Linked DNA regions of Homo sapiens: region 1 is linked to region 2. Evidence: fine-mapped expression QTL. A gene starts in region 2. The other region holds a variant in brackets. All regions are shown on one strand. Distances are from middle to middle. Region 1 overlaps LOC105375704 (a long non-coding RNA gene). Region 2 holds the start of RSPO2 (R-spondin 2).

What was found. PIP is the estimated chance that this variant, and not a neighbour inherited with it, causes the effect.
Region 1: its variant is fine-mapped to the expression of RSPO2 in esophagus muscle (GTEx, PIP above 0.99).

Annotation. Positions count from the first base shown.
Region 1 is chr8:108,260,933-108,271,607 of GRCh38, forward strand. LOC105375704 (a long non-coding RNA gene) reads right to left here. Exons shown (of 3, transcript XR_928530.4): 3 at 5,067-7,490. Among named protein-coding and RNA genes, the nearest start is that of EIF3E, 18 kb to the left of the region's middle. The variant A/T (reference allele first, on the strand shown) is at 5,987.
Region 2 is chr8:108,080,602-108,091,080 of GRCh38, forward strand. It overlaps RSPO2 (R-spondin 2), which reads right to left and starts at 3,019. Exons shown (of 6, transcript NM_178565.5): 1 at 2,596-3,019; 2 at 1,944-2,206. The coding sequence starts at 2,037. RefSeq lists silencers at 1,040-1,334, 1,875-2,050 and an enhancer at 1,212-2,158.

The DNA of each region.
Region 1 (10,675 bases), 180 kb after region 2:
TGGGATTACAGGCGTGAGCCACCGTGCCTGGCCAATTCCTATTTCTTTTAAGGCATTATCTCTTGTGTTTATTTTCTCTGGTATTCCTTTTCATTTCATCTTTGTGTTGGAAATGTTTTTCCTTTTATCTCTAATTCTTTTGTCGTTTTGTCCCCTCAGTACTGAGCTTTTCTGATTGTAACTTATAAGTTACCCAGTGAACACATTCTTCCACAAAACACCATTATTCAAAACCTTGAATAATTTTCCTAATGTTCTTAGACTTGTTTTAACGTGTGAAGTTACTATTTTGAGCTGTTTTGTGGGCACATCTTCCTGGCCTGCTTTCCTTGTCTGTAGATGTTTATTTGCTCCTTTTTTTTTTTTAAATAATAATTGTGTATGGGATTTTCCCTCCGTACTCTCCTGGTGTTCAGTTCTAGTTTTTCCCACATTTTTACAATGGGATGGAATGGAGGAAATCTTTTCTGACTTTAAGAAGCTCCCACTTCTGTTGTTTTTGCATAGTGGTCAAAGCGTCAGTGGCTTGCTTTCTGGGATTTCCTGGCCCCGAGCCCTCTCCACTGGACCTTTACTTTTCTTTATCCCATTTATCCCAATGCTGCTTTGGATTGTTTGCAGCAGATTCTTGTCAGTGTGGGGCCATGTCCCAGATGGGAGTGAGCAGTGGCGAGTCACAGGTTTTGGAGTTACAGGCAGGCTGGACTGCTCCGGTGCCCACAGACTGCCAGCAGGAGCGCCACCCTGGCTAAGAGGACAATGTGCTGTCTCCTATCTGGCTGCTCTGAGCAGTGGCCTGCAAGCCCACAGCTGCTGAGGCTCCTGCCTGCACCTGCTCTCACCTGCTGGCAGTGATCTCAGTCCTCAGCTTCATGGCTACCTTCTTCCTCCCGCACAGAACCTGACAGTCTGTGACTGTTGAGGGGTTACCACCACCTGCTTGTATTTTGAGGTCCCCTAGCTTTATTGTAAATGTTGCTTAGGTGTTTTGGCTTTGCCATCTAGTTGCTGTGTGTGTGTGTGTGTGTGTGTGTGTGTGTGTGTGTGTGTGTGTGTGTGGTGTGTGTGTAGGAATTCAGAGATTGACAATTTGGGCCACCGCCATCTCCCCCAAATACCAGTCAACTGCTTTTAAAACTAGGACAAACTAGAAATGAGCATTTATGACCTTCCAGAAAGGCTCTTTGAATTAAAGAACAGTCCTAAATATTTATCAAATGTATTTTCCCATGTCCCTATCAGCACCCACTATTCAGCCACTTATTGTTTTCCTAACCAGTTCAGCTGTGTTCCGTTTACTCCCACCCCTCACTCACAGTTTAAGTAACCTTTCTAGTATGCAAATACGACTATGTCACTTGTATTCCTACTGATTCAATCCTAAGTTCTTTGGCAGGGCATCCAAGGTCCCCATGACTGGGGTCTTTCTCCCTCTTTGCTCTGATGTCCCGTCACTTAGCCTTCAAACTCTGTACATTAATAATACTGGTCTGCTTGCAATCATGTACATACATGATGTTCTTTCAAGCCTCAGTGCTTCTGTGTGTCTTATTGTGTCTGCCTGGATTGTATTTCCCACTTTTCTTCTTCTGGCTAATTCTTACTGGACTTCCCAGGCTTCACTGCCCTTCTCTGAGTTCCCACAGCATCTTGTACTTATCTTTATTCTGTCATTTACCAAGTAAGATATATGTTATATGCTAAAGTGTCTATTTCCTCTACTTGGCAGTAAACTAGGGTCCATATGTTACTCATCCATGTGCCCCAGCATCAAACACAGTGTCTTGCACATAGATAGTTTTAATATCTTCACTGCTTCTTGCTTCTACCTGTCCTTTCTGAGTCATTTTACCTCTCTTGGTATTTCAGCTATGCCCCATTTCATCTACTGCCATGGTATATTAAAAGAGAAAAATATCAGTGCTGATGACTCCCAAATTCCTCTTTCTGACTCAAGCACCTCATCTGAGCTCCAGATCATTTATTCAACTTATTCGTTAACATCTGCAATTGCATGTCTCCCAGGAATCCAAAATCAAGGTCCAGCCCTCCACTAGTGTTCCCTTTCTTGATCAATGGCACCCTGTTGATCATGCCAGAAGACAAAAGTCATGCTAACTCATTGTGTTTTTTTTAATTGCCAAGCATCAGCTTTCGTTAATTCCACCTTCCAAGTTTATCTCAGATTTATTGTTTTCTCACCTTTTCCAGTCACTGCACCAGTTGAAGCCATATCATCTCTCACCTGAAGCCACTGCAAATAGATTCCTAACTATATCCCTGTTTCCACTCTTGACTTTCTCTAATCAATTTACACACGATAGACAAAATTACCCTTTGAAAATGAAAACCTGATTATATTATCCTCTGCTTAAAACCAATCAATGGCTTTTTGTTGTTCTTAGCATGAAACCTGAAAATCCTTAAATTGGCCTGTAAGTTCCTGTTCTTCCTTTTGTGCACGGGCTTTCTTTAATTTCCTTAAATTTAAACAGCTCCTTCCAATCATCCAGTTATGCTGTTTCCTCTGCCTAGATTCTCCTCTCCATCCTCCTTCATCCTCACTGGGGCAAACTCCTATTCTAGCTTTGAAATGGTAACAATTTTTCTTTTTATATTATTTGTTGCATCCCTAAGCACAGTTCCGTTTTGCTTGTTTGTGAACTTTACATAAATGAAAACACACTGTATCCGTCCTTTTGTGACTTGGATTTTATGTTCAACATTATGTGTAAAGGATTCATTCATGTTGCTGAGTGTATTGTTTGTTCATTTTCACTGCTTTATAATATTTCACATTTCCACAAAATCTATTTTAGACTCGATGAAGTTTAGGGTTTCTAGTTTTGGGCTATACTGAGCTATGAATGATGCTGCTATGAACCTTCTACAAATATTCTAGTCTACCCATGCACCCATTTTTTCAGGTATATACCTATGAACTTTGGCAGTTAATACCAAACTGCTCTCTAAAGTGGGCATTCAAGATTACACTCTTCTCAGGAGTATATAAGAGTTATTGTTGCTGTATATCCTTGCTGACACTTTTTAATTCATGGCAATCTGATGGAAGTATATGTTGCATACACTTTTTTATTGTAAATTAGTGTTATATAAAATACTAATATGGTGATATATGGTTGATTAGTTCCAAAAGATGACCACAACAATTCTTCTTACCTCAGTCTCCTTCTGCAATGTGAATCTGTAGCTTCTTCATTAAAAAGTAGAGTCTACTTCTCTTCCCCCTAAATATGGGCTGGCCCCATGACTTGCTTTGACTTCTAGGTCTGGGTCTTCAGAAGCCTAGCAGCTTCTAAGTTTATTTTCATGGAATCCAGCTGCCCTATAGATAAGTTCAGGCTAGACTACTGAATTATGACAGTCTATGCAGAGTGAGGCCAAGTCATCTCCCAGCTCTTCCAACCATCCCAGCTGATGTGGGTTGGATCTGTGTCCCTTCCTAAGTCTCATGTTGAATTGTAATCCCCAGTGTAGGAGGTGGGGCCTGGTGGGAGGTGATTGGATTATGGGGGCAGAGTTCTCATGAACAGTTTTGCACCATTACCCCCTTGATACTGAATAGTAAGTGAGTTCTCATGAGATCTGGTTGTTAAAAGTGGGTAGCACCTCCCCTGCCACCTTCCTCCTGCTCTCAGCCATGTGAAGTACCAGCTTTCTCTTCACTTTCTGCCATGATTGTAAGTTTCCTGAGGTCTCCTTAGAAGCCAAAGCTGCTATGCTTCCTGTACAGCCTGCAGAACTGTGGGCCAACTCTTTTCTTTGTAAAATTACCCAGTCTCAGGTATTTATTTACAGCAGTGCAACAACTGACTAATATACCAGCTAAGATGCCAGATATATGAGTGAAGTCATCTTAGACAACCAGCCTCGGTTGAGCCTTCAGCCGAATGCAGCTGCATGAGTGACCCCAGTCAACATCATGCAGTGACATAATATATGGCTGTTATTTTTTTTCTTTATTACCACTCCCTTAGAACAGCATGAAGGCTGTGATTCTAAAGCCACAGAGTTGTAGAAATTTTATTATACAGCAATAGGTCGTTGAATCACAATATATAAAAAGCCTTAAAAATCCTTATATCCCTTGTATCAGTTTCCTTTAAAAAAGAATCTATCTTAAAGATATATTCAAAATATTATCTTTAAGTGAGTACAAAAATATTCCCTGTAGTGTTATTTACTTTTAAAATATATATATAGAGAGAGATGGGGTCTCACTTTACTGCCCAGGCTGGTCTCAAACTCTTGGGCTCAAGTGATCCTCCCACCTTAGTCTCCCAAAGTTCTGGGACTACAACCATGAGCCACCACACCCAGCCTACATCTTTTTTTTTTTTTGACACGGAGTTTTGCTCTTGCCACCCAGGCTGGAGTGCAGTGGTGCAATCTCAGCTCACTGCAACCTCTGCCTCTTGAGTTCAAGCGATTCTCCTGCCTCAGCCTCCTGAGTAGCTGGGATTACAGTCACCCACCACCATGCCCAGCTAATTTTTGTATTTTTAGTAGAGACAGGGTTTCACCATGTTGGCCAGGTTGGTCTGGAACTCCTGACCTCTTTTCAAAGTGGAAATAACCTCTAAATTTAAAAATTGTAAAAGGTTGTTAATAAAATAAATTATGAGGCTGAGCATGGTGGCTCACACCTGTAATACCAGCACCTTGGGAGGCCAAGGTGGTGGATGGATCACTTGAGGCCAGGAGTTTGAGATCAGCCTGGCCAACATGACGAAACCCTGTCTCTACTAAAAATACAAAAAAAAAAAAAAAATTAGCCGGCCATGGTGGTGCACATCTGTAATTTCAGCTACTCAGGAGGGTGAGGCATGAGAATCACTTGAACCTGGAAGGCAGAGGTTGCAGTGAACCAAGATTGCACCATTGTACTCCAGCCTAGGTGCCAGAATGAGACTGTCTCAAAAAAATAAAAATAAATAAATAAATAAATTATGATGCATTCATGAGATAGAACACTATACAGACAAAACTACATTGAAAGGATTTTAATGACATTGGAAACTGCTGAAGAAAAATATCAGGTGGTAATGAATCTATCTATCTTTCTACCTTCATTTCATTCCTGACTTGTTTAAAAAATTGTACATAGAAAAAGACTAAAATTAAATGGAAAAAAATAAACACATTAACAATGGTTTGATGGTTTGATTTAATTTTTCCCATTCTTTGAAAGTTTTTTACAGAGACCATATGTTGCTTATATATACAGAAAAGAAGCTAAGGTTGTTTTTTGGAGTACAGTCATATACCACATAATGATGGTTTGGTCAGTGACAAACCCACATATACTATATCATGGTCTCCTAAGATTATAGTACATATTTTTACTGTACTTTTTCTATGTTTAGATACACAGATACTTACCATTGTGTTACAACTGCCTGCAGTATTCAGTACAGTAACATGCTGTGTGGGTTTGTAGCCTAGGAGCAATAGGCTATACCATCTAGCATAAGTGTGTGGTAGGCTATACCATCTAGGTTTGTGTGAGTACACACTGATGTTAGCACAGTGATGAACTAGCCTAAGGACACATTTCTCAGAACATATCTCATCTCCTCATTGTTAAGTGACAGAAGACTGTAGTAGAAAATCTGCAGTTAAATTTGACATGCTCTGGCAGAAAAAAATGCCTCTACAGTTGAAATCACACAGGCTGTAGTACTCTACTTCCCCTGGTGGCAATCGGTTCAAATTTCAGGAGCAGACCTGAAGGCTTGATAGCTCAGATTTTTCAAAGTTGAACAATATAGCGTTTCTATCTCTTAATTTATCAGAATTAATAAGAAAAAAAGGCCATACTATTTTACTGTTAGAATTATTTTGTAAAGCAAAGAGCATTTGAAAGTCCTGAAGGTAGGAAGAACATAATCTGAAAATAAATGACAATCCTTTAGATACATCTAACTTTATGAATAAATAACTTTATGAAAAATATGGTCTTATT[A/T]ATTTTCATTTTTCTATGGACTGGTGGAAACTTCATTTGGGAAACTCTGGCTCAAAGAAAGAAAAAACAATGCTAAAAGTTAAAATTACACAGGGATAGCAAATGTCATATATATTCTTCCTTGGTAGGAAAGCACCTAGGTTTCCCAATAAATTATCTTTAAAGTAGAGAGTAATAGAACTTCTAGAGCCATTGAGTTAAGTTAGGTTTCTTTCTAGGGCAGAGTTTCTCTAAGTGGAAGTGCTTATTAAATAATCGGTCTCAGGGACCCTACCCTAGACCCACCGATATTGAACCTCTGGGATTGTGACCTAGGAATCTAGATTTTTAACAACATCCTCAGGAGAGTCTTACACACTTAAACTTGGAAACATTGTCTTTGAGGGGTTCTCTATCTTGATCTGGTTGGCGGTTACATGGCTGTAGACTATGGAAAGATTTATCAAGATGTACACTTGTGTACTTTACATAAATGACACCTCATTAAAAAGCAAAAAGAAACAAAAAATGCTAGGAATTACATAATGCTTTAACAAAACAAGTAAACTTATTGTTTTGAAATTTTTAATTAACATTTGTGGCCATAATTTATATATTTCTGTTGTACTGAAGCAGATTGTTTTGCATTTTTGTTAGCAAACTTCGGCAGTGGTCATTTTAGAAACAATCTTGTACATACTTTTGATTAAAACACTTGATTTTGTTAGTGAAAAAAGAATTCTAATTTATAGCCAAGAATTTTTGGCCACTATTTTTTTTCTTGGATATAGATAACATTTATTATTTTACATTTTAAAAAATTTATATTACTTTAGGAGGTTGATGAGTCAAGTAAATGGTACTTTGAACACCCTGTTGTCTTTGTTTTGTGGCAGTGAAGAAATGAAAATTTCTGTAAAAAGAAAGAGAGGAAAGAAGGAAGGAAGGGTGGGAGCTGGAAGGAGAAAGGGAGGGAGAAAAGAAGGAAGAAAAACAAGGAAAAACAGAAGGAAAGAAAATGGAAGCAACCATTGCCCCAAGGACAAACTATTCCTGCCCACCCTCTCAAAACTAATCCCCTCAAATAGCCCAAGACGTTTCATATGTTTTTATCCTTAGTTACATCTCCAGCTATTTATTCTTTGATTCCCATCTAGAACAGCCTCTAGCTATTGTAACACTTTATGTTTGAATATATTTTGTCATTGTTTCCATTAGTGTGTCTGTACAAACTTTTTTTTTTTTTTTTAAATATGACTGTTACTCCATTGAAAAGAGAAGAGCAGGATTCACTGTAAGGGGCAGAGAATCTGTGGCCTCTCATTTTGATCCCTGATTTATCACACACCTTCACAGTTTTACCAGTGTCAGAAGGAGGCCTGTTTTCTCCTGGAATGCTACATTCTTTGGGGATGAAGTGTTTTGAGTCTTTAGCACTGCATTGGAGTGTCTCTGGAGTGTTTAGCATCTGGATACAGCCGTCATCACAGTAATGAGAGATAGAGCAGGCCAGAGCTGGCTCTGTCTGGAGGGAAAAACAGGATCAACACCAAATCTACCATGGCTCTTTCCGTTGTTACAAAAATAATGGATCAATAAGGCATCTCTGTGAAATACTTATTCCATCACCCAATCTATTGTTTACACATAGTTAGAAAGTGAGTCTAATAGTTAATGACATTACTATAAAATTTCAGGAGATTATCAACCATAATTTTCAGGAGATTAATAACCATAACAACAGTTGCAGTCTGTTTTTGTAAACTCTGTTTTCCTCATACAAATGTAATATCTTTCTCTTTTTCAATAATAGTACTAATAATATTAGAAGGACTTCTGAAATATAACAAATGGCCCATGTTTGCTCAAATAGTCTTTCGTTAGTATCACCGAGAGACAAAATTCTATGCTAGATAGATCATCTGATGTATTTTGTATGTATAAAAAATTTGCATAGCTTTTATTATAAAAATCACACACGTATGTAATAAAAAGATAAGCTGAAAAGATCATAATTAAAGTCTCTGGTGGAACAGCCACTTAGAGATAATCACTAATACCAACTTACAATAGAGGTATGTTCTGATAAAGCCATCATAAGTCAAAAATATCATAAATCAAAAATGCAACTAATATCCCAATAAACCCATTGTAAAGTCAAAAAATCATAAGTTGAATCATTGTAAGTCAGTGGCCATCTGTATTTGTAGAGATACATCAAGAGTGAGATAGATCATTGCATTTATTTAGCACAAACTATGACCAGACCTTGTGTTATGAATACTAGCTCATCTAGGTATTACTGTTATAAACACTATTTTTACAGAGGAGAAAGCCAAGAAACAAAGTTAAATAATGTATCCAAGGTCATAACACTAGTAGATGGTAGAGCTAGAATTTGAGGCCAAGCAGTCTGACTTTGAAGTTTTTATTCTTAATCAATTGCTAGGGTTACAATTACATATATATGTGTATATAATTTTTTTGAGACAGGGTCTCGCTCTGTTGCCCAGGCTAGAGTACAGTGACACAGTTTTGGCTCACTGCAGCCTCAACCTCCTGGGCTGGAGTCATTCTACCTCAGCCCCACAAAAAGCTGGGACTACAGGTGTGCACCACCATGCCTGGCTAATTTTAAAAAATATATTTTTGTAGAGATGGGGTCCTGCTATGTTGCCCATGCTGATCTTGAACTCCGGAGCTCAAGTAATCCTCCTGCCATGGCCCTCTAAAATGCTGGGATTATAGCCATGAGCTACTGTGCCCAGCCATCAGCATATTTTTAAACAGCTTTATTGAGGTATAATTGATATAATAAACTGCACATATTTAAAATGTACAATTTAGTAAATTTCAAAAACTATTTTTCAGTGTACATTCCAATAGTGTTCAATATATTCATATTGTTGTGTAACACATATTCAGAACTTTTCATCTTGCAGAACTGAAACTCTACCCATTAGACAGTAACAATCCATTTCTCCCTCCCCTCAGCTTCTGGCAACCACCATTCTACTTTTTGTTTCTATGAATTGACTATTTTAGATAGTGGAATCATACAGTATTTGTGATGTTGTTACTAGCTTATTTCATTTAGCAGAATGTCCCCAAGGTTCATCCATGTTGTAGTATGTGTCAGAACCTCTTTCCTTTTTTTAAGGCTGAATAATATTCCATTGCGTGTATACCACAATTTGCTTATCCATTCATCTATCAATGAACAATGGGTTTCTTCCATCTCTTGGCTATTGTGAATAATGCTGCAATTAACATGGGTGTGCACCTATCTCTTTCAGATCCAGCTTTGAATTCTTTTGGAAATACATCAAAAAATGAAATCACTGCATTATACTATAATTTTATTTTTAATTTTTTGAGGAACTGCCGTATTGTTTCCATGGTGACCATATCATCTTACATTATTACAGACAGTGCACAGAGGTTCCGATTTCTTCACATCCTTGTCAATATTTATTATTTTCTGGGTATTTTTTTTTTTTTGGATGGTAGACATCCAAATGGGTGTGAGGTGATGTCTTATTGTGGTTTTAATTGGTGTTTCTCTGATGATTAGTGATATTGAACATCTTTTCATATGCTTGTTGGTCATTTTTATATCATCTTTGGTATATGTGCTGCCAAAGTGAGCACTGTATATCATCTTTGGAGAAATGTCTGTCCAAGTCCTTTGCCCATTTTTTAATCAGGCTATTTTGTTGTTGTTGTTGAGTTGTAGAAGTTCTTTATGTATCCTGGATATTAACCCTTCCAATATATCTTTTTAAACAAATGGAATTACACTTTGCAGGCTGTTTAGCAAACTATTTTTTCATTTTATATATGTTGAATATATTATTTTATATTATTTTGCTACAGGATTTATATTCTGTCATATCTATAGTATACTTTTTAATGCTTTCTCTATTGTAGACACTTTTACTTTTGCTATTATAAATAAAATTATACTGATCATATTTATTAATTTTATGGATAATTTCTGTATTAGCTTCCTGAGGCTGTTGTAACAAAGTACCACAAATTTGGTGGGTAGAAACAATAGAAATTTATTTTCTCACAGCTCTGGAGGCTATAAATCTGAAATCTAGGAGGGCCACACTAATCCAGGGACTCAAGTAAAGATAATGTTCCTTGGATTTTCAAGCTTCTGATGGCTGTTGGCATTCCTTGACTTGTGGATGCATTTCCTCCCTGTTCATTGCTTCCTGCTCATTTGTCTGTGTGTTCTCCCACTGCCTCTGTCTTATAAGGACAGTTGTCATTGGGTTTAGGACCCACGCAGATAATCAAGGATGATCTCATCATCCCAAGATCCTTAATTATATCTTCTTCAAAGACCCTTGTTCCTTATAAAGTAACATTCACAAATTCCTGGGGTTGGAACATGGACATGTCTTTTAGGGGAACACAATTCAGTCCACTACAGTTTTATGAAGATAAATTCCTAAAATTAGAATGGTTAGTTCATGGTATGTAAAATTTAAACATTTTAAGATAAGTATTTCAGAATTGTGCTCCAAAATGACTTTGAATTTTTAATGTTCTTAAACACATGTGTGTATTGTGTCTTCATGCATAGACACCATGCAATAACGTATATGTGTGTTGTGTGTGCATGCATAGACACCACACAATACATATGTGTGTGTTGTGTGTGCATGCATAGACACCGTGCAGTAACATAGGTGCACC
Region 2 (10,479 bases):
AGTATCCCTTCTGGCCGCAGGAGTGCTGTAATGTCCTTTTCCACCAAACAGCATCTCTGCATTAAGTTCTACTAAAACAATATGCTTGGTTCTTCCCCACTCAACCACAATGGGACAGGCAGGGTGGATCAGAAAGCCATCACTGAATTAGCAAGTCATCTAATAAGGATCTGGCAAAGGATTTTAGACATTTCTATATTTTGCAGACTTCAAGCACTTTAGTTTTTCTAAGTAGACTGCAGCTTTGACTTATAAAAAGAGGAAAAGCCTCTCCAAACACTTTTGACCATAATGTAATCAAAAATTGCTGGCTCTGCCGAATACTCGAAAGAAAGTACTGGGATTGAGAAAGGAATCAGGAGGGGAGGAGAGAGGAGATAAAAAGGGACTTTTTCAAGACAAGTATCAATATCAAACTCTCATGGCCTTTGGGAAGAAATTTCTCTCTAGTATTTTTAAGTAAAATAATTTCTGAAAATAAACAATTTCCAAAAGTCAGAAATCGGGGGAGAGGGAGGGAGAGAAGTTGGAGAAGGTTTATTCTTACAAGCCGCAGATACAGAGACAATTGAAGCGCAGGGACTACAGAAGTCGCACACCATCAGTTATTTGGAGCTCTGCGCTCAGGTGGGCCAATCTCTAGCTCTGCCCCTAGGTGAGAACAGCTTAACAATGTCCTAAAAAGCCATCAAAAAAATAAGGTTCGGAAAGTCCTCCTCAAAATCTGGATGCAGGAGCGGAGATTACACACAATGAGTTATAAACAAATCACATCACAGATCGAGTGAGATGTTTACATCTTGGAGAAAAAGTCAACATTCATGAACCCGGCGACAAATTCTAATTGCGCAAAAGTCCAAAGTGCCGAATGAAATAGACAGCTCTCACCAGGTCCCTGGGAAGGGGCTGCTGCGCGCCCTTCCTGCGCGGGTAATTCGATGTGCGTGTGGTGAGTGGTTTATGTTTAAATCCACCCAGAAAATTGAATCGTGTCTAGCCGCCCTTCTTCTAAAATGCAGTTGGATTAGTTGCATCTCCAGCGGACTCCGAGACAGAAATACGCACTAAATCTGCAGGAAAGCGAGTTCCCCGAAACCTTTCTGGAGGCTTCCACCCGCCTTCTCCGCTACGCACAAGTGATGGAGAGGGAGGGAGCAGTTAAAAAGCCGCAAGTGAATTTCATTGAGAACAGAAGCCTCCACCGGTGTGGCTGCTTTTGCAAAGCAAATGGAGAGAGCGAAGTGGGGCCTGTTTTAAAAACAAACCTCTGGAGGCGAGGACTCCCCAGAAAACCAGCGCGGGAATTGCTGCTTAATTCAGAAAGTTCCCATCTCGTCGCAGTTTCCAGAAAAAAGAGATCTATGTTGGCCTTTTTCTGGAAAGGGAGGTCCTCCCCCTCGACTTGGTACCCCTCCCAAGCTCCGGAATACAGACACACGCTTGGGTACACCCACACACCACACACACACTATGCTAGGTCAAGTCCGAAGAGATCTGAGGCCGGGTTTGGGGCGCACGTGGATGGGGAAGATAAAACAAATGAGCTACAGGGAAGATGGTTAGGAGGACAGAGAGAAGAACAACGACGACAAAAAAAAAATGCATGTCAGATAAGAAATACGTCCTAAAGAGACAAGTTTAGATGAGGAGGTGGGGCGGCGAACATGAGTGCGGACCGCACGACTTAGCCCTGAGCGCCCGATTGGCGCCCGGCTCGCCGAGCTCCCAGCGCGTCTCGCTCCGGCTCCCCGCGCCTCCAGGGTACAGAAAACAGAGTGTTTTGTAGAGCTCCAGGGTCCTAAAGGTGGGGACTGGGGACCCGCAAAAGCTGGGGTGGAGAGCACAGCCCTGACCATCTGAGCCCCCGGAGCCAGGGCGTGAGTGAGCGCCTCCACACGCCACCCCTGAAGCCCACCACGCACCTTTGGCAGAGAGGGACCCACCTCGCTTACTGCGTCTCCATCGGTTGCCTTGGCAGTGGCTGTAATCCATGCAGTTCAGAATGATGAGGGCAAAGGAGAAAAGGCGAAACTGCATCTGGGCGGTCGGGCGGGGGAGAGACGCCTCTCAAAGTCTAGGAACTGGAGGGTTCGCCCAAAGAGCCGGCGCCGGCCGCGCTGCTGGGGAGGACTCAGAGGGAGACTCGCCACTCACCCCCGGGCCGCACCGGTCAGTTCAGCGCGATCAGCATCTCTCCGCCACGAACCTGAGAGACAAGAAGCGAAAACAGGGTGTGTGGGGGATGGAGAGAGCCCCGGGGAGGCAGCTGCGCCTTCGCACGTCCCAATTTAAAGAAGAGAGGGAAGGAGGAAGCGAACCCACTGCCTAGCACGAGCCGCGGAGCGGCTTAATCCAGAGCGGGCAGCTGCGGACGAGTTGGAGAGGAAGGTGATTATAATCAGTGAATTAGCAACCTCTGCCGAGCCCTAAGCTCCGACCCAGCGGCATAATGCGTTGTGCCGGCGCTCCGGGGAAAGGAAAGAACTCTAAAGGCACTGAGAGCGCAGGGCTAAAAGAACGCTCTTAGGCCATTTGGAGTCCACGGCGGTGTACCCAAGCGCCGCAGCTGCGGCTGCCTTGGTGTGGGTTGCCTACCGTGCGCACGTCTCGGGCGGCGCGGCCTCCCTAGGCGCGGTGCTCCATCCCGGGCTCGGGAAGCGAGCCGCTTGGTTAGCACGTGGGCTGGGGAAAAGTTTGCCGAGACCGGCTGGGAGCGCCTGGCAGCTCTGGAATTCCAGCGGCCGCCGCGGGGTTGGCGACGCCAGGCAGGAGCGCGGAGCGGCGGGTGCAGCCACTGGGATGCTCCGTCCCCGCCCGCGAGCGCGGTCCCCAGGCAAGGGGTGCGCCCGCTCACACTCTCTGCCTCCCTAACCAATTGTGTCGCTTCCTGCGCTTTCTCCACGGTCACTTCACAGCTAAGATTTCTTTCTTTCCGAGCTGTAGAAGGCAGAACGCTCTCGGGAGGACGAAGTGATCCGAAGGGATGTGGCAAGCGCACTTTCCGATGGAGATGCAGACCGGCTGAGGCTTGGGATGCTTCTATAAGTAGGTGGTGCTGTGGTCCAAGGCATCTAAGTCTAGGCTGCCTCGGAGTTCCTGGGTCCTAAAGCCAGAAACGTCCCGGTTTCCCTGAGGTCCTAAAGAACGTTGACAGCCAACAGCGCGCCTAACTTGGAGCGAATCCTCTTCGGGCTTTCCAGAGTGCGGGGGATAGATAAAGAGTAGCTGGGGAGACGCCCCCTGACCTTGCTGGGTCCCAGAACCCGGCTGCTCACCCCCAAGGGGTCCTCTCCAGCCCTCTAGGGTCAGTTCCAACCTCAGCGCCAACCTTTCTGCAGGGAGATCTGACTGAAGGACTGATGACTCCCTTTAAACTTTTGCAATATGCCACAACTCTGCCACTTTTTAATTTACATCTTGTCTGTGTTTTGCAGGAAGGTATGTTAGCCGGCTGAAATTATTCATAAAACGCGCCCCCACTTTGAGGAGTGAAATGGGTATTCCCAACAGCTTTTGTTCATCCTCAGAACTGTTATTTACTTTGTTTCTTCTCCAATAAAACAAAAACCTGTGATCCGTTGCCTGAAGTGCTGAAGAAGTTGGGGCCTTGATTCTTTAAAAATAATTTTAAAAAGTTCACTTCCCACTAAAGTATTTTTCATTCTTAATCCTCCTCTCATTTCCAAAGTCTCCTGAATTAAACTTTTAGGTGCTTTGGGTTTGGGGAAAATATTCTGTTTAACAAAGTGTTACATTAAATAGACTTGATGCCATCCAATTTCATTCTGGTGAAATCTGTCCTGCATTCACTACTGTAGGAAAAAATGTATTTATTCCTTAAGCAAAAGATAAGAATTTATGCCACTAACCGTGGCAGTATGAATGTCTATAGATATGCCCGCAGTTACCATATTATTATGATAGCATTTTATACTATTTAAATTCCCTTTTCTATTCCTTCAGTTTCAGAAGATGTTCAGAAATTTGATGACTTAAAAGACAATCATATAAAAAGAATATTGCAATACTCATATTTATTAACTATTCCATTATTGCCTATTCATAACTATTTTACAGACTCACTATTACATAGTGGTATTTATGTGCTAAGAATTTCAGCAGTATGCCTTTGATGCATGCCTGAGAACACCCAAGTAAATCTGAGTTGAGGTCATTGGTCCCATTTCATAGATAAGAAAATCCATCACTGAGACTGGCCCACAGGGCACAAATAGAGTTCACAAAACACATTGCAGAAACAGTGGATCTGTTTCTTGACTTTTGAGCCTTTGATTTTTATCACAGAATTTGGAAACATTTCAGTGTAGGGAGTGGCCCCAGTGTTTGGCATAACTTGATATTTCTTGATCATCTTGATATGATGCTGAATATCTCTTCAGCACCATAAATACTACTTCTTTCCAAATATAGTCATATATGCACACAACAAATGAATTATACTTATAAAGGAGTTAAATCTATGGGAGAAAGGAAGTCTTCCCTAAGTAAGCCCCCCTGCCTCCTTGCAAAGCTTTGAGATCCATTCAAGATCAGTGGTCATCAGTGTCTTTTAAAATATTTAAAGGCAAAAGTAAACACAAGACCAAGCAGAGGTAGCGCTACCATTAATCACCTGCGTCACTTTGGGCAATTTTCTTGGTCTCAGTTTCCTTGGCAGTATTTTTAGGAAGTCTGTCCAAGGTCTCTTTCACTTCTACATGTTCTGGTTTACAATCAATTTTCTATTTGTACTAGGAAGTTTGCTATGGTATCTAACCAGTGTAAGGGCAAACTCATCAGTGATGGGTTCTTTGTGTAGAAAGAAGAGGGTTAGCCACTGCCTTCCTTAGTTAAATTTACAGACCACTTCACCCTTATCCCTTCAAAGACAACTTTCCATAATTTTAATTTTAATCTTTTGTGTTGTACAGTTGGTGCATTTTTAGCCAGAGATGCTTTTCAGTTTAGTGAACCCCCAGATTCAGTTCATGAGGAAGAATTTTGACAGTACCACTTCTGTAGAAAATTGGTTAATGTGTTTAGTAAGAAAAGAATAGGCTCTGGAAGAAAGGAAAATTCTTAATTCCTTCTTTTGCTCCCTCCTGGTCTATCTCTGCCTCTTAAAAGACACCAGTGAACCTTAAAACTCTGTCAGACTTAGTTCTTGGGGTACTTGGAGTCTCACACTTAATCACTTTGGGGCTAATTTGTTGATAATGCAGAATTTTTTTTTTTTACATTCACTGAATATTTTTCCTGACTTCAAAATCCCAGGAATGTTCTTGCTACTAAAAAATACAACCCTAATGGATCCTAGACTATCATTAACTTTAATCCCATATCTCTGCTTCCTTTCATTTCTAAACTCAGAATGTGGTGTTGTTGAGGCTCACAGCTCACAGTTTCTCCATCTTGGAGACTCAATGGACTTTTTCTTCAAACTGAGTTTATATAGTGGTTTCATTAAACTGGCTTTGTAAATAGACTTGTGCCTGGGTTCTGTTTACAGAGAAGTATACTGATATACTGAGGAGGTTGACTCTATACCACTCATTGGTGATAGGGAAAGTTAACTGAGGGCAGAAGTGGGGGATGATGTTATAGAGAGGAGATAACTTCTGTATTTTATTTTTTGACTTGTAATTCGTTCATACAGCTCAAAATTCAATCCTTACAAAACACCATAACAGGGCAAAGTCTCTCCTACCTCCTTCTCTCAGGCATCCAGTTCTCCTTAGAGTCAATCAGTTATTCTTTTACAAGTGTTCACGGTTTTTGGTATACTTCAGAAGATGTTTGGTGCTTATCAAACAAGTAACTTGATAATCTTTTTGCTTATCAAGCAAGGAAAGAAGGAAGAATGTATTATATATATGTACATGCACATATATAGGCATACATATAATATGTGCGTATACATATATATAATACATTCTTCCTTCTCTGTTTTATAATATATTCTTCCTCTCTTTTATGCAATTAGTAGAATACTGTATTCACTAATCTGTACCTTGAGGGGTTGTTTTTTTTTTTTTTTTTTGAGATGGAGTCTTGTTCTGTCGCCAGGCTGGAGTGCAGTGGTACGATCCGGGCTCACTGGAACCTCCGACTCCCTGGTTCAAGCGATTCTCCTGCCTCAGCCTCACGAATAGCTGGGATTACAGGCACATGCGACCACACCCAGCTACTTTTTGTATTTTTAGCAGAGACAGGGTTTCACCGTTTTAGCCAGGATGGTCTTGATCTCCGGACTTCGTGATCCGCCTGCCTCGGCCTCCCAAAGTGCTGAGATTACAGGCGTGAGCCACCATGGCATCAGTTCATAGAGAACTGTCCTGTTCTTTTTATATAGTCACATATTATTTCATCGTATGGCTGTATTTAGCCAGCCTCCCTATCAATATACATTTAGATTGTTTTCATACTTTTTGTATCTTAAGCAATGCTTCAATTAACTTTTTCATGTGTCATTTTACCTTTCCATTATAAATTCTTAAAAGTAGAAAAGTTGAATCAAACAGTTGGATATATGTGTGTGTGTTCTGCAAATTGCCTTTCACAAAGGTTCTTTCATATTACACCGTGTGAAAATGCCTATCTCTAGATGCTGACCAACACTTTTTGACTTTTGACACTTGTAGGCAAAAAGTCGTATCTCAGTAAAGTGTTAATTTGTATTTATTTTCTTTTAAATGAAATTTTGTGTGTCTTTAGTATGCTCCATCCATTTGTATTTTCTTTTCCATGAACTCTCTGAAGATATAATTTGCCTATTTTTCTATTGTGTTCTTGGTCATTTGTTTTTGTTTGTAGAATTTGCATGTATTGATATAATGTCTTTTGTGATTTGAGTTGCATATTTTTCCAAGTTTCTTATTTACCTTTTGACTTTGTTTTTGATGTATATTAATATGTAAAAAAATTTTAAATACTTTTACATAGTGCAGTTTGCCAGTCTTATCTTTTATAGCTTCTCTGTGTCATACTTGAAAAAGCTCTTCCTCGCTATTTATGACAAACCCACAACCAATACCATACTGAATGGGCAAAAGCTGGAAGCATTGCCTTTGAAAACCAGCACAAGACAAGGATGCCCTCTCTCACCACTCCTATTCAACATAGTATTGGAAATTCTGGCCAGGGCAATCAGGCAATAAATAAAGGGTATTCAAATAGGAAGAGAGGAAGTCAAATTGTCTCTCTTTCCAGATGACATGATCCTATATTTAGAAAATCCCATTGTCTCAGCCCAAAATCTCCTTAAGCTGATAAGCAACTTCAGCAAAATCTCAGGATACAAAATAAATGTGCAAAAATCACAAGCATTCCTATACAACAATAGGCAAACAGAGAGCCAAATCATGAGAGAACTCCCATTCACAATTGCTACAAAGAGAATAAAATACCTAGGAATACAACTTACAAGGGATGTGAAGGACCTCTTCAAGGAGAACTACAAATCACTGCTCAAGGAAATCAGAGAGGACACAAAGAAATGGAAAAAACATTCCATGCTGATGGATAGGAAGAATCAATACCATGATAATGGCCATAGTGCCCAAAGTAATTTATAGATTCAATGCTATCCCCATCAAGCTACCATTGACTTTCTTCACAGAATTAGAAAAAACTACTTTAAATTTCATATGGAACCAAAAAAAAGAGCCCATATGGCCAAGACAATCCTAAGCAAAAAGAACAAAGTTGGAGGCATCATGCTACCTGACTTCAGACTATACTACAAGGCTACAGTAACCAAAACAGCATGGTACTGGTATCAAAACAGATATATAGACCAATGGAACAGAACAGAGGCCTCAGAAATAAGGCCACACATCTACAACCATATGATCTTTGACAAACCTGACAAAAGCAGTGGGGAAAGGATTCCCTATTTAATAAATTGTGTTGGAAAACTGGGTAGCCATAGGCAGAAAACTGAAACTGGACCCCTTTCTTACACCTTATACAAAAATTAACTCAACATGAATTAAAGACTTAAACGTAAGACCTAAAACTATAAAAACCCTAGAAGAAAACCTAGGCAATACCATTCAGGACATAGGCATGGGCAAAGAATTCATGACTAAAACACCAAAAGCAATGGCAACAAAAGCCAAAATTGACAAATGGGATCCAATTAAACTAAAAAGCTTCTGCACAACAAAAGAAACTATCATCAAAGTGAACAGGCAACCTACAGAATGAGAGAAAATTTTTGCAATCTATCCATCTAACTAAGGGCAAATATCCAGAATCTACAAAGAACTTAAACAAATTTACAAGAAAAAAACAACCCCATCAAAAAGTGGGCAAAGGATATGAACAGACCCTTCTCAAGAGAAGACATTTATGCAGCCAACAAACATATGAAAAAAAGCTCATTATCACTGGTCATTAGAGAAATGCAAATCAAAACCACAATGAGATACCGTCTCATGCCAGTTAGAATGGTGTTCATTAAAAAGACAGGAAACAACAGATGCTGGAGAGGATGTGGAGAAATAAGAACACTTTTACGTTGTTGGTGTGAGTGTAAATTAGTTCAACCATTGTGGAAGACAATGTGGCAATTCCTCAAGGGTCTAGAACCAGAAATACCATTTGACTCACCAATCTCATTACTGGGTATATACCCAAAGAATTATAAATCATTCCACTATACAGACACATGCACACATATGTTTATTGTGGCACTATTCACAACAGGAAAGACTTGGAACCAACCCAAATGCCCATCAGTGATAGACTGGATAAAGAAAATGTGGCACATATACACCATGGAATACTATGCAGCCATAAAAAAGGAAGAGTTCATGTCCTTTGCAGGGACATGGTTGAAGCTGGAAACCATCATTCTCAGCAAACTAACACAAGAACAGAAAACCAAAACCAAACACTGCATGTTCTCACTTATAAGTGGGAGTTGAACAATGAGAAGGCATGGACACAGGGAGGGGAACATCACACACCAGGGCCTGTCAGGGGGTTGGGGGCTAGGGGAGAGATAGCATTAGGAGAAATACCTAATGTAGATGATGGGTTGATGGGTGCAGCAAACCACCATGGCACATGTATACCTATGTAACAAACCTACACATTCTGCATATGTATCCCAGAACTTAAAGTATACTTTTTAAAAAGAGAAAGAAAAAGCTCTTCCTTGTGCCATTATTTTTAGATTTTCATTTAGGAATTTTCCAATATATTTTTTCAATGTTAACACCCATAGGATGCTAGTGATTTTATGACTGTACAGTGTGGGCTACAGTAGAATAGATTTAAAGTTTTCTGAATCTTTCATAAGCATTTATGCTTATAGATTTGGTTGACTTTGGCACTGATTCTTGTTTTCATTAGCTAATTGATTTAGAGTTATCTTTTATGTTATCTGTTATTCATTCTCAGATTTAAAATTTCTCACAATCTTTTTAATCATTGTTGATATTGATTGTATGCACTCTTCCAGTGTAGAATTTATCCTTTAATTGCTTTGGAACAAATTATAGCATTTTTGCCATTGTGCTACTATTGATAGTTTTTTCCTGTTAAATATAAGCACGTCTGTTTTGCCAGTTGCATGTGATAGCCCATGTTCATTTATTATATTTTGTGTGAAGTAATTATATTAATATGAAAGGTCTTCAACAAGGTCACTGACCAGTCCTTATCTAGGCTGATTTGTTGTTTTAAAAAGCCACATCACAATCACTTATTTAATGTTTAAAAAATGTGTAAATATTTGACTCCTCCGAATGTTAATACTGCCTTCTGCCACTTGAGTACTCATCTGTGGACTGATGTGATGAAGCCTATTTCTCATTTTGTGCTTCATCCCCATGGAAGAAATCCAGGAGGCAGCTTTGTTGACTTCAAAGGAAGTCCAACACAGACCAGCTCAAAAGAGAAAACTCAAGATCTGACCCAAAGTTTTCAAATAATTTCCCTTATTTAATTTTGTGTGCCCTGAACTCTTTTGAACTAAAGTAATATGTGTCATTTCCATTCCTTGTGGTGTGAATGTTGTTGCTAGAAGGAACTATTACTCCACACAAGTAACAAGAGATTCTCAGTTTTCTTAAAAATTAGGTTGTTTTCATTAAATGAATAGAAGGTCTGGTTTTACTTTATTTGTGGACACTCAGCTTGCTATAATAGAAGTAAACAATAGAACAGGTAATTCCTAAAGGCAGGAAATATCCTCCTCTGAACTTTTTTCTGTACTGGTATCCAAAATAGATACGCCTCCCCTAATCATTCCATTTGTCTTTAACTTATAGTTGTAATGAATTGTGTTACTGCTCAAGAACAAATTTGTCAGCCACCCTCAGCAAATGTACAAAAGTTTATGTCACACATTTTATGTACTAGTTTTATTTCTTGCTCCATTTTAAGTTTCTAGCCTTATTTTCCCTTTCCCACATTTTCCTCAGCTATTTGCAATATATTTTACTTTGCTACTTTGCAGTATCACGTGCA